Regions from separate parts of the Homo sapiens genome. Here region 2 is linked to region 1. Evidence: fine-mapped expression QTL. Tissue or cell type: whole blood. Region 1 holds a variant in brackets; the other region holds the start of a gene. All regions are shown on one strand. Distances are between the middles of the regions.

What was found. PIP is the estimated chance that this variant, and not a neighbour inherited with it, causes the effect.
Region 2: FMNL1-DT starts here. The variant in region 1 is fine-mapped to the expression of FMNL1-DT in whole blood (TOPMed, PIP 0.98).

The regions. Positions count from the first base shown.
Region 1 is chr17:45,253,815-45,258,997 of GRCh38, reverse strand. SPATA32 (spermatogenesis associated 32) reads left to right here. Exons shown (of 5, transcript NM_152343.3): 2 at 1,791-1,845; 3 at 2,583-2,622; 4 at 2,925-3,883; 5 at 4,485-4,605. The coding sequence ends at 4,572. MAP3K14-AS1 (MAP3K14 antisense RNA 1) reads right to left here. Exons shown (of 4, transcript NR_110326.1): 2 at 3,780-3,863. Among named protein-coding and RNA genes, the nearest start is that of SPATA32, 5.7 kb to the left of the region's middle. RefSeq lists an enhancer at 2,336-3,096. The variant GTCTT/T (reference allele first, on the strand shown) is at 2,576.
Region 2 is chr17:45,219,804-45,224,926 of GRCh38, reverse strand. FMNL1-DT (FMNL1 divergent transcript) reads left to right here and starts at 3,162. Exons shown (of 3, transcript NR_147507.1): 1 at 3,162-3,578; 2 at 4,473-4,659. FMNL1 (formin like 1) reads right to left here and starts at 3,042. Exons shown (of 27, transcript NM_005892.4): 1 at 2,674-3,042. The coding sequence starts at 2,802. RefSeq lists enhancers at 448-497, 1,098-1,167, 1,503-2,003, 2,004-2,504 and silencers at 2,351-2,645, 2,568-2,677, 2,958-3,007, 3,018-3,467.

The DNA.
Region 1 (5,183 bases):
ATACAAAAGATGGATATATTTCTGTATACTAGCAACAAACCACTGGAAATTGAAATTATTTCGGCCAGGCACGGTGGCTCATGCCTGTAATCCCAGCACTTTGGGAGGCCGAGGCAGGCAGATCATTTGAGGCCAGGAGTTTGAGATCAGCCTGGCCAAAATGGTGAAACCCCATCTCTACTAAAAATACAAAAAGTGAGCTGGGCGTCGTGGCGCATGCCTATAATCCCAGCTGCTCAGGAGGCTGAGTCAGGAGAATCGCTTGATCTCAGGAGGCGGAGGTTACAGTGAGCCGAGATCACACCACTACACTCCAGCGTGGGTGACAGAGTGAGACCCTGCCTCAAAAAAAATTATTTCAATTATTTCATATACTGCAGAATATCACTTGAATCCCTAATAGAACATTCTCAAGTCAGGCAACGAGGTCCCAAGCTGAGTCAATGTCTGACTTTTTCTCCCAGCCCCCAGTGCTGTTAAGAGGCTCACACAACAGTAATTTCTTCTCCTGTCCATACCCAGCTGCCGTTTATGGAGGGGTTGAGGCTGTGGGTGTTGATTAAACTGCCCAGGGAAATTCTGTAAAGGGAGCAAAGGCCCTGAGGTCAGAAGCCTGGGGGAACAGCAGGACCTGGGACAGGGGGAGTTGGAGAGGGAGAAGAGAGACACGTGAGGAAGCCAGGGAAGCATAGTGGTCAAGGAGGTGGAGGGTTCTGAAGAGATCATTGAGCCGGCCACTCTGCTGATACATCCCCCAAGACCAGGCTGAAGCAGATGGTCCCAATCCCAAGACCAGCCATGCAAGGACCCCTCCCTCCAGCCACTACATCTCTAGGAAGAGACCGCAGTACATTCTCATCCTTCCAATATGATCCTGGGAGCGATTCTTCCCAGCCAGAGCCAGGGCTGTCACTTCCTGCCATACCCCAGGCTGATGGGGACCCACCTTGCATGATGGCAGGGTTGTCATGATGGCCCCACCATCAACCCCTATGCATGGCCCTGGGTAGCAGAGAACAGGGCAGCCTGGTGCTTCCCACTCCCACAGGGTGAAGAAACAGCTTCTGCAGTAAAAGATACAAGCCTCCAGGGAGGGGTTTGGGGTTGCGGACGTTCCCAAGGAGTCAGTCTCCCCTGCAGAGGGTGATCTGAGCTCATAAATCGTCGGATAGGTGCTAGCACCACCTCAGATTACACACCTGGGGTGCAGGCCTTGGCCTGGAGTCAGTGATGGATGACCCAGAGAGAGGAGAGGAAGCCGGCAGAGGAGCAGGAATGGGGAGATGGGGGAGGTTCACATGGGGCGTTATTGGGACTCCACGCAGTTACAGGGTCCTGGGAGTAGCCGGTGGGGGCAGGGAGTTAAGAGTTTCCTGAGTCAAGCCTGCATTCAAGTCATCACTTCAGCTATGTTCAGCTGGGGGACCTTGGGCAAATGGACCTGTCCTAATTTTTTGTGTTGAATCAGTGAGATAAAGCAGGTAAAGTGACCAGGCTATGGAAGCGCTCTGTCATGTTCAGGGTACTGTTAGCAGTCACGGTTTTGGGGGATGGAGATGGAACCGGGAGCCTCCGAGGAGGCAAGGCACAGACGGAGAGTGGAGGGAGCAGGACTGGAGGATAGGAATGGCGACCGGCTCGGGAACAAGGAGAGCGGGGCAGGACGGTGAGGGGGAATAGCAGCCGGGAAGAGAGAAAAGAAGGGCAGGAAAAGGGGGCTGGCTCCGGAATCCCTCTGGGACTGTCCTCTACCCTGCAGCTCCCTGCCCTCACCTCCTTTCCCCTGTCAGGTGCCCATGGATTTCCATGCTGCGGCAAAGGGTCAGTGGAGGTTGCAGAGATGCGGTGAGAACCATCCTCAATCAACGTAGGGCCTCCCCCGAGCCCTCCAGGACCTCCGACCTCACCCCCAGCCTAGGATCCCCCAGCCTAGGATCTCCCTCCCTTCTGCCATTTCCAAAACCTCCCCGGGGCCAGTGTCCAGGCCAAAAGGCTGGGGAGGGCGTGGGGCGCCTATCCTCCCACTTCTGTTTATGCCCTCAGCCCCTGGCATGAGAGGAAGACTGAGGGGTGGTGGGGCACACCCAGGGACAGGATAGGACCTGACCCCTCAGAGCTGCCTGGCTTGCTGAGGACAGAGCTGCTCAAGGCGGGGGTGGGCAGGCACTTGAAGAAAGAGTGGGCAGGTGGGTGGGAGGACATTGCTCTGGGGCTCCCCTGCTGGGGACTAGTGTTCTGGGCACTAATCCTCGAAGTGAGTTGCCCCAGCTCACCTGCAGTGCTTGATAAAAATGAGATTCCTGGGCCTTACCTCCAACCAACTGGATTCCTCTTTGGGGGTGGGGCATGAGTTGGCAAGCAGCTTCCTAAACTCACTAAAGTTTCAGAATACAACCGCAGACTTCCTGGTGGCAGTGGAGTGGGACAGCAGGGGAGTGGATGAGCTGGTGGCGGGGTGGTCGGCGGGAGGTGCATCGTGCCAGCTTCTGTTACAAGGCAGAGGGCTTTGAGGGCCCCAGAAACCCCCTTCCCGCTGAAGCCCCACAGATCCCCATCACCCACTCTGTCTTCTTCT[GTCTT/T]AGAGATGACTTAAGTCAACACCAGATACAAGAGGAACAGGAGGTAAAAATGGGAGTGTCCTCTTACGGGGAGGTGGTAGGCAAGCGGCAGGGCTCTTCCCTAAGTCCCCACCAGCCCCTACCCTTGACAATCCTGGGACCCTAGTACCAGGCCGGTGTGGGTACACCCACACACACACCCCCTCACCGGGCAGGTCTCTGAGAGGAGGCAGGCATGGGGTTAGGGGGCGGGGGGAAGACAGCAGGACCCAGGGCAGGGGTGGGGCAGGGACTCGGTGCCAGGGAGGGCCTCAGGGGCAGGACCTCCCGCTCCTGCCTCCTCAGCTTTGAGTTGAAACATTTCAGCTGGAGGCAGACATGCTAGAGCAGAAGCCCCAACTCCAAGTGGACCTGGACCTGGACCCAGACCCAGACCCAGACCCAGAACTGGAGATCGGACAGGTGCCGGCTTTACTGGAGTCAGAGCTATACCCAGCCCTCAAGCTTGAAGCTGAGCTGGACACGGAAGCCAACTCGAACGAGGAGTCTGACTTTGAAGAACCCATGCAGCTGGTATGCAAGATAGAGTCCGTCCACTCCAACATGGGGCTGCCCACGCCACAGACCTTCAGACCGTGGAGTCTGAATTCAAACTGCCGGAGTTTCACGGAGGAGAACCACGTGTCTGCCTGCCATCACTCCATCAGTGCGCAGACCTCCAAGCACCTCTTCTGGGCAAACAAGCTCATCCAGGCCTCAGAGCACAGCCTGCAGCGGGCCATCAACATGCAGCTCAACAATGGCAGCGCAGGCCAGCCCATCAGATCCCCGCTCCGGGAGGCCATCCCCACCAACGCCCTGTGCTCCGAGGAGCAGCTCCAGATCCCTGATGCCCACTCAGCTCCTCCAACCACAAGCTCCCAGGCACCAAGCCCCCTCCTGTCCTCAGATCTCCCGCCACCCATTGACCTGACAGAGCTAATCACCTTTGCATCTTCCCTGGCCATGGCCTCCTCCAGCAGGATGGACCTGCCCAGTTTGGAACACATGATGAAAGCTCCACCCCAGGAGGCTCTGGAGCCTTCCACAGAGCCCCTCCTGACCACTGTGGAGGAGCGAGAGCCAGAAAATCACGCAGAGACCCTGCCAGAGAAACCACGCGAAGCCAGAGCACCACTGAAATCTTGGAGTCAGGAAGACAAGAACTTCGCTCAATCTTACTTTGACTTCAGCAAGCCGGGGATCAAGAGGGCCACCATCAAAGGGCAAATCCAGCTTCTCCAGCCACCAGCCACGTCCCCTCTGCTGCAGGGAAGCAAGGAAGAGTGAGTGAGGCCAGCCCCGCAGCTCCCATAGAGGGGCTGTGCTAGAACGTGGCAGGGGTCCTCACACAGCTGGGTAGGGGTGGGGAACAGTGGAATGAGGGCCTGGGAGCAGGATGTGGTGGGCTGTGACGCCTCCACCTCAGTGACCTCATAAAGGCTGTTGGAACGAGGTTCCAGTGGACTGAGGCGCAGAGCCAAGGCGAGGGCTGGAGGAGGCCTGGGGACCAAGGAGGGTGGGCACAGGGGCCTGGGTTCAAAATGGGAAGGACCACACTGGCATTAGGCGGCTTTCCACCCTGGGGGTCGGGCCTCACCAAGGTTGGGAATGCTCAGGCTGGGGTCTGCCCTGTTGAAAGCCTGTTGGCCCCAACCCTGGGGTCCAGGACACTTTTCTTGAGGGGAGAATGAGGGTGCAGGGCTCTCCAGTACACCTTGCTTTCTGGTAGTGAATGGACACAGAATGTAATCTCAGCTGCCCAGACGCGGGCAGCAGCAGAAGACCCCTTACCCCCAGCGACCTCTTCAGAGGGGCCTCTGGGCTCACCCCTCTCCTTCAACCACCCTCTGGGGCCCAAGTGACACTCTCTCTTTTGTGTTGCAGCTCAGTGCCGCCAGGAAAAGAGAAAGAGAATCCATTATTGGTGAAAATCCATTTTAAGCTGTCAGCCCCCACAATCCCAGAGAAATGACTAGACAGAACCAATAAAGCCTCCAGTGCTGGCCGTCGGCTTAGACTTTTGTGCAAATGCCCCTGGGCCAGGGAGCCCTCCTGGCTGCTGTGTCCTCGTCTGTTTTTTAGGGATGCCACCCCATTTTTTAGCTGCCCCAGCTCCACCTGCCCCCAGAGGGCAATGCCACCCTTGTCCTGGCCACCCATCTCTCACCTGCCCACTCCCCAGGGTCAATTCCCTTCACTCCCTCCTGGCCAGCCCTCTAGGCCAGCAGAAAGACTTGTGGCTGGTCTTGGGGAGACCTCGGTGTCCTGTGAGGCTTCCATTTCTTAGACTGTGAAATGAGGCTTCCTCTTGGCCTGAGGCCAGGGATGTGTTGGGATCATCTGAGGAGATGGCCTTCTGGGCGTGGACTGGGCAGGTGAGAAAGTGGGTCTGAGGGGGTTCTTCCTGCGCTCTTCATGGGGAAGAGCTGGCATGGGGAAGGGATGGTGTCCAGGAGCTTGAAGGGGAGGAAAATGAGGCCGAAGAACTGGTCCTCCAGAGGGTCACAGGCTGGAGCTAGACGTACCTCCAAATGCAGGAGAGCCATAGATCACCCAGACATGTGCACACAGACACCACCAGCT
Region 2 (5,123 bases), 34 kb after region 1:
GCCTTGGGCATGGGCGTAGGAGAGGCGAGAGCTTGGCGCCCCGCTGGCTGGTGTTCCCACCATCACAGCAGGCCCGTGGGGCTGGGCAGCCATCGCTCCTCTGCTGTTGCTAAGGCAGCAGCCGGAAACCCTGGCTCAACCTGCTCTTTCTCTCCACCCCCATTTTAAGCAGGGGGCACCCCTTTCTTTCACAGCTTTCTTGGAAAGGTAGCCCCCCACCACCCACCCTTGCATGGGAGAAGGGCTCCCTGCACCTCCTGTCTGGCTGTAAGTGGGGACACCCCTCACCCACAAGAGAGGTCCTACAGCCAGGAGAGGAAGGAGAGTTTGGGGTATCAGGATCCTATGCCCCACCAGGGACAAAAGGGGAAGGAAGAGGTTCCCTGGGGCCGCTGGACTACATCCCTGAGGGCAGGACTGTGCTTCTCCCATTGAGACTGGGGACCACTGATGGCGGTGGGCCCCTCCCCTCAGCAATCTAAGGTTCTTCTCCTCTTAGACACTGACCGAGGACAGGACTCAGCTCTGGCCATGGTGGTTCGGGTGGGGGTTCACATAGCGACCAACTCTGCGATACACACTGCCAGACCTGAGGGTTGAACCAACTCTTTAGCCCTGGGCAGCCTCAGGCAGAGGTCAAGGTTGTCACCCTGGGGCAAGCCTCATGCCCCTGCTGGTGGGGAATGAGAGGAACCAGGGTCTTAGCCAAGTGTCCTTAGATTGGGTTTAACCTGCCCACAACAGGATATAAGACAGGCTGAGCCACCCCGGGAAGAAGGTATAAACACACTGGGGTTCCTGGGCACCTGGTAGGGGGTAAGCCCTGGTGGGTGCTGCTACCCTAAATTTCTGCTAGGCACCTCCACTTTCTCCACCAGCACACCCTCTCTGACCCACCTGTGGGTGTCCCCCCTCCACATCCTGGTACTCAGGGACTCCCAGTGGCATTTAGTGTCAGACTCAGCCAATCACAGCCACAAATCCAAGCAGGGCAAACAAGTCCTACACACACATCAGAACCTCACCATTTGACTTGTGGATTTTCCCCTGGTCTGAATTATTCACAGGGCTCCTCCCCATCAGCGTGCTAAACAGAAGATTGGGGTCAGGACCTCACCCCAAGAGCCCACACCCGCGACCATAGACACACACTTGGCGGAAAGACAGACCCATGTCCCTCCAACCAGGTTGGCAGGGGTCCAAGGACCCACCACCAATGCAGGCTCTCCAGATGGCCCCCAGAGACTGTGTCTCCTCATTCTCCCCCCTCCCCCATCTGCTCAGCTCAGCTCAGCTTTGTGAAGTCCTATGCTTGGGGAGCGGGGAGCAGGGCAGGTGGAGAGATGGAGAAGTCAGGGGCCAGCCTGGTGTGAGGCGTCCCTCAGTGTCCCTGCCCTCCTCTAATCAAGCAAGGTGTCTTCACAAGGATGGATCCCTCGCCACCCCATAGCTCCTCCAAACTCCCCCCAGCCTTCTCTTGGGAGAGGACAGAAGCCAACATTTTCAGGAACTGTTAGGAGGTGACCCTCTGGAGCCATGCTGAGGATCTAGCACGTATGGCCTAATGACCAGCCAGGCGAGGGGAAATGATGTCAAGGAGATGGAGGGCCACCAACTGAGCCAGAACCCTCTGCGGCCTGTGTCTCCGTTGAGCCCCCACCCTCAGACCTGCAGGGACTGGGAAATGCATCTGGGAGAAGGCACAGCCTCATTTTGCCTGTCACCCAGCGTCCAGCAAGGGAAGGCTGACAGCAGGCAGGCCACCAGGCAATTAGTTAGAGGAGGGAGCCAGGGCCAGGGCGTCGGGGGTGGGGAGAGTGAGAGTGAGCAGCTCTTCCTCTCCCTACTTCTGCCTTATGCAGGGTCTTGGAGACCCCTGAGTCTGCTCTGGAGCCCCCACCCCACTGAACATGTTGACTGTTTCCAGGCTCGGCCTGAGCTGCTGGTTCCCTCCCAGAGACCTATTCCCCAGCGACCCCGCTCCAATTCCCCAGGTAGGCACAGAGGGGGGTGGTTCCAGATTTTGCTCCACCCCTAGCCTGGGCGACCCACCCGTCCTGACCCCACCCTCCCTCATCTTACTCCCTTCAGTGGCTTGGAAAGGATGCCCCAAGATAAAGACCCACAGGCACCCTGGCTCTGACATATGGCGGGGTAGAAACACAGATACCTCCTGGCCATGATCCGACAACCCCATTCCCCGCAGCCCAGGCGCCCAACAAATCAGGACCCAACACCTCCAGCAGGTCTCCCGCTCCCGGGAGGTTGTAACCCTTTCATCTTTGACTCCAGACACAGAAAGGCAGATGCCCCAGACCCGCGCCCGGTGGCTGGGCCTGCGTGCAGTGGGGAAGGGGGCGACCCGGGACCCCTGTGCGTGCCCCGCTCCCAACTTCTTCACAGGACATACTTGTTTAGACCTTAAGACCCAGCTGGGGTGGAGGCGTCTTAGGGAGGGAGACCGGGCGATAACTGAAGAAAGTTTTGGGGGGAGAGTGCTAAGTCACTCTGAAAAAAAGGCCACTGTCGCTCCCACCTCCTGGAGGGGGCAGCTGCCGGACCGGGGATCTCCAAGCGGCACCTGAGTCCCCGGGGGCGGGGACGCGCGCCCAGCCCCTGCCGCGCCCCTGCCGCCCCCCGCCCGCGCCCGACCCGCCTCCGGGTCGCACTCACCAGGGCGCGGTTGAACCTCTCCTCCAGCTCTCCGGCCGCGGGCATCGGCTGCTTGGGAGGCGCGGGCTGCTTGGGGGGCGGCGCGGCGGGGCCCGCGGGCTGCTCGGCGCTGCCGGCCGCGTTGCCCATGGTGGTCCCCACCCAGCCGGCCAGGCGCCTCCAGCCTCGGAAATCCAGCTTTCCGGGGGACGGGGACGAGGCTCCCGGCCCGGGCGGGGGCGAGGGGGCAGCGGCTGGCGGTGGCGGCGGGGGTCTCGGCAGCGGGGGGCGCTCGGCTCAGCGGCGCGCAGGGGCCGGAGCGCGGCGTCCCATCGGGGCGGCCCCGTCCGTGGGACCGGGCGGCGAGCTGCAGGGTTGGGGGAGGAAGTCAGGCTGCAGGCCGCCGGGGCCAGAGGGCTGGGCCGGGGGCAGGAAGCTGCGGCGCTGGCTCCCCCCTCGGCGATTTTCGAACTTCTGCTGTCGCTCCCCGTGCGCGCAAACCGCAGTTCGCCGCCGCCGCCGCCGGGCACCCAGCCCCAGGGGGGCGGGCTGGAGGGAGGGGGCGGGCGCTGGCCGGGGGACCCCCGCAACCATGGCGGGCGGGGAGTGGGCTGCCGAGCCGCTTCACCTGCCGCAGAGGGGGCGGCCGGCGCCGCTTCACCTGCCGGAGCGGGAGGCCACCGAGGCGAGGCCGAGGCGGCGGCGCGCTCGGCGGCGCCTCCGGGTCCTAGAACCGCATCCTCCCGCTCGCCTCGGGCGAGGGATTGGCCGGGTCTGGGTGAAGGGGATCACGGCCTGGGGATTGGAGGGGCACATCTTCTCCGCACCGAGGATCTCAGCGACTGCGAGCACGGCTCGGAGACCCACGGTGGTGCAGCGTTGGGGCGCCAGGGCTGCGTTCCCGTCTCGCGTCCCGGACTGAGAAGGTGGGAACCCCCTTCCAGGCCCCCCACCTTTTATTTCTCTCCTCCCCTGCTTAGCCCAGAGACGAGCTGAGGACGAGGGGGAGCCATCTCCAAACAGGAACTCCTAAACAGGGTGGGGGGCGCGGACGCAGGCCAGTGGAGACCCCCGCCACCTGTCCCACCTCGACCAACCGTGCGCCTGTGCAGGGCACCCCTACAGGTTTTAGAATGGGGGCACCTATGGAATATGGCAGGCTGCGAGAAGCTGGGCCCGCCAAGGTGGTCCCAAGGAGGAGTGGGGGGTTGCGGAAAGGAGGATGAGAGCCAGCCACAAGGCTGGAAAAGGAGTGGGCACCGCAGAGGAGGGAAAAAGAATCTTGACACTGTCACCGCCAGGGATCTAGGGGGGCCTCTTACCTTGGAGAATAACAATCTCTGATGTCTGCTAATTACAGAAATACTTTCAGAGCTCTTTCATTCATCCTGACAATGGCCAGAGAAGGTAGGTATTGGTAGCCTTATTTTAGAGATGGGGAAACTGAGGCTGAGAGTAGGTAAGTAAGCTGTCCAAGGGCACTCAGCTAACAAAGGACAGAAGCAAGCCTCCTCACTGTCTACCTCCAAAACCTACACTGGCTTGGAGTTGCTGTCCTGGCCCTCCACTGCCCATCTCATGTAGGACGGGAGAGTATGGGGGGCTGGGGTCCCATCTATAGCCTGAATTTGAGACTTTCAGTTGCTCCTCTCATTCCCCATTTAATTTGTGGGGATCCCCAACTGACCCCTCCCTACACTTCCAGGGCACTGAGGAGGGAGGGCCCGCTGAAGGAGCCCCGAATTATCTCTAGGCCAGGTCAGGAGCCATTAGTGTCCCCTCCCCTGACAGCATCCTCCTCCTTCTGCCCTCACATTCAGAGCCACTGACAAGACTTTAAGCAAGAGACGGAGAGTTAACATCTAATCTGGAGGAAGACCCTGGAAGGAGCCAGCCCCTTCCCCCAGGCTGACCTGGTTTAAGCCTTTCTTCTGCCAAGGTCACCAGCACCCCAGATGGGTGAGAGATGTGATCACTGGTTTCGTGGCCTGACCAAGGACCTCCAAGGTGAGTCAAAGCAGAATTCTCCTTGGGCATGCAGGGAAAATGATCCATTCCCTGCACACTGCCATATTCTCCTTCTCAGACAGACCAGAGCCTTGCCCTTGGGTCCTTGCCCTTGAGATTAGCTAGGACCTCCTCCTCTTCTTCTCCTTCTTTCTTCTTCTTCTTGTCTCTATAAGATAACTGTCGTGGAAGACTTTTTTTTTTCTTTTAAGATGGAGTCTCTCGCTGTTGCCCAGGCTGGAGTGCAGTGGCTCGGTCTCAGCTCACTGCAACCTCCACCTCCCAGGTCCAAGCAATTATCCAGTCTCAGCCTCCTCAGTAGCTGGGACCACAGGTGCGTGCCACCACACCCAGCTCATTTTTGTATTTTTAGTAGAGACGGGGTTTTGCTATGTTGACCAAGCTGGTCTCGAACTCCTGACCTCAAGTGATCCGCCTGCCTCGGCCTCCCAAAGTGCTGGGAT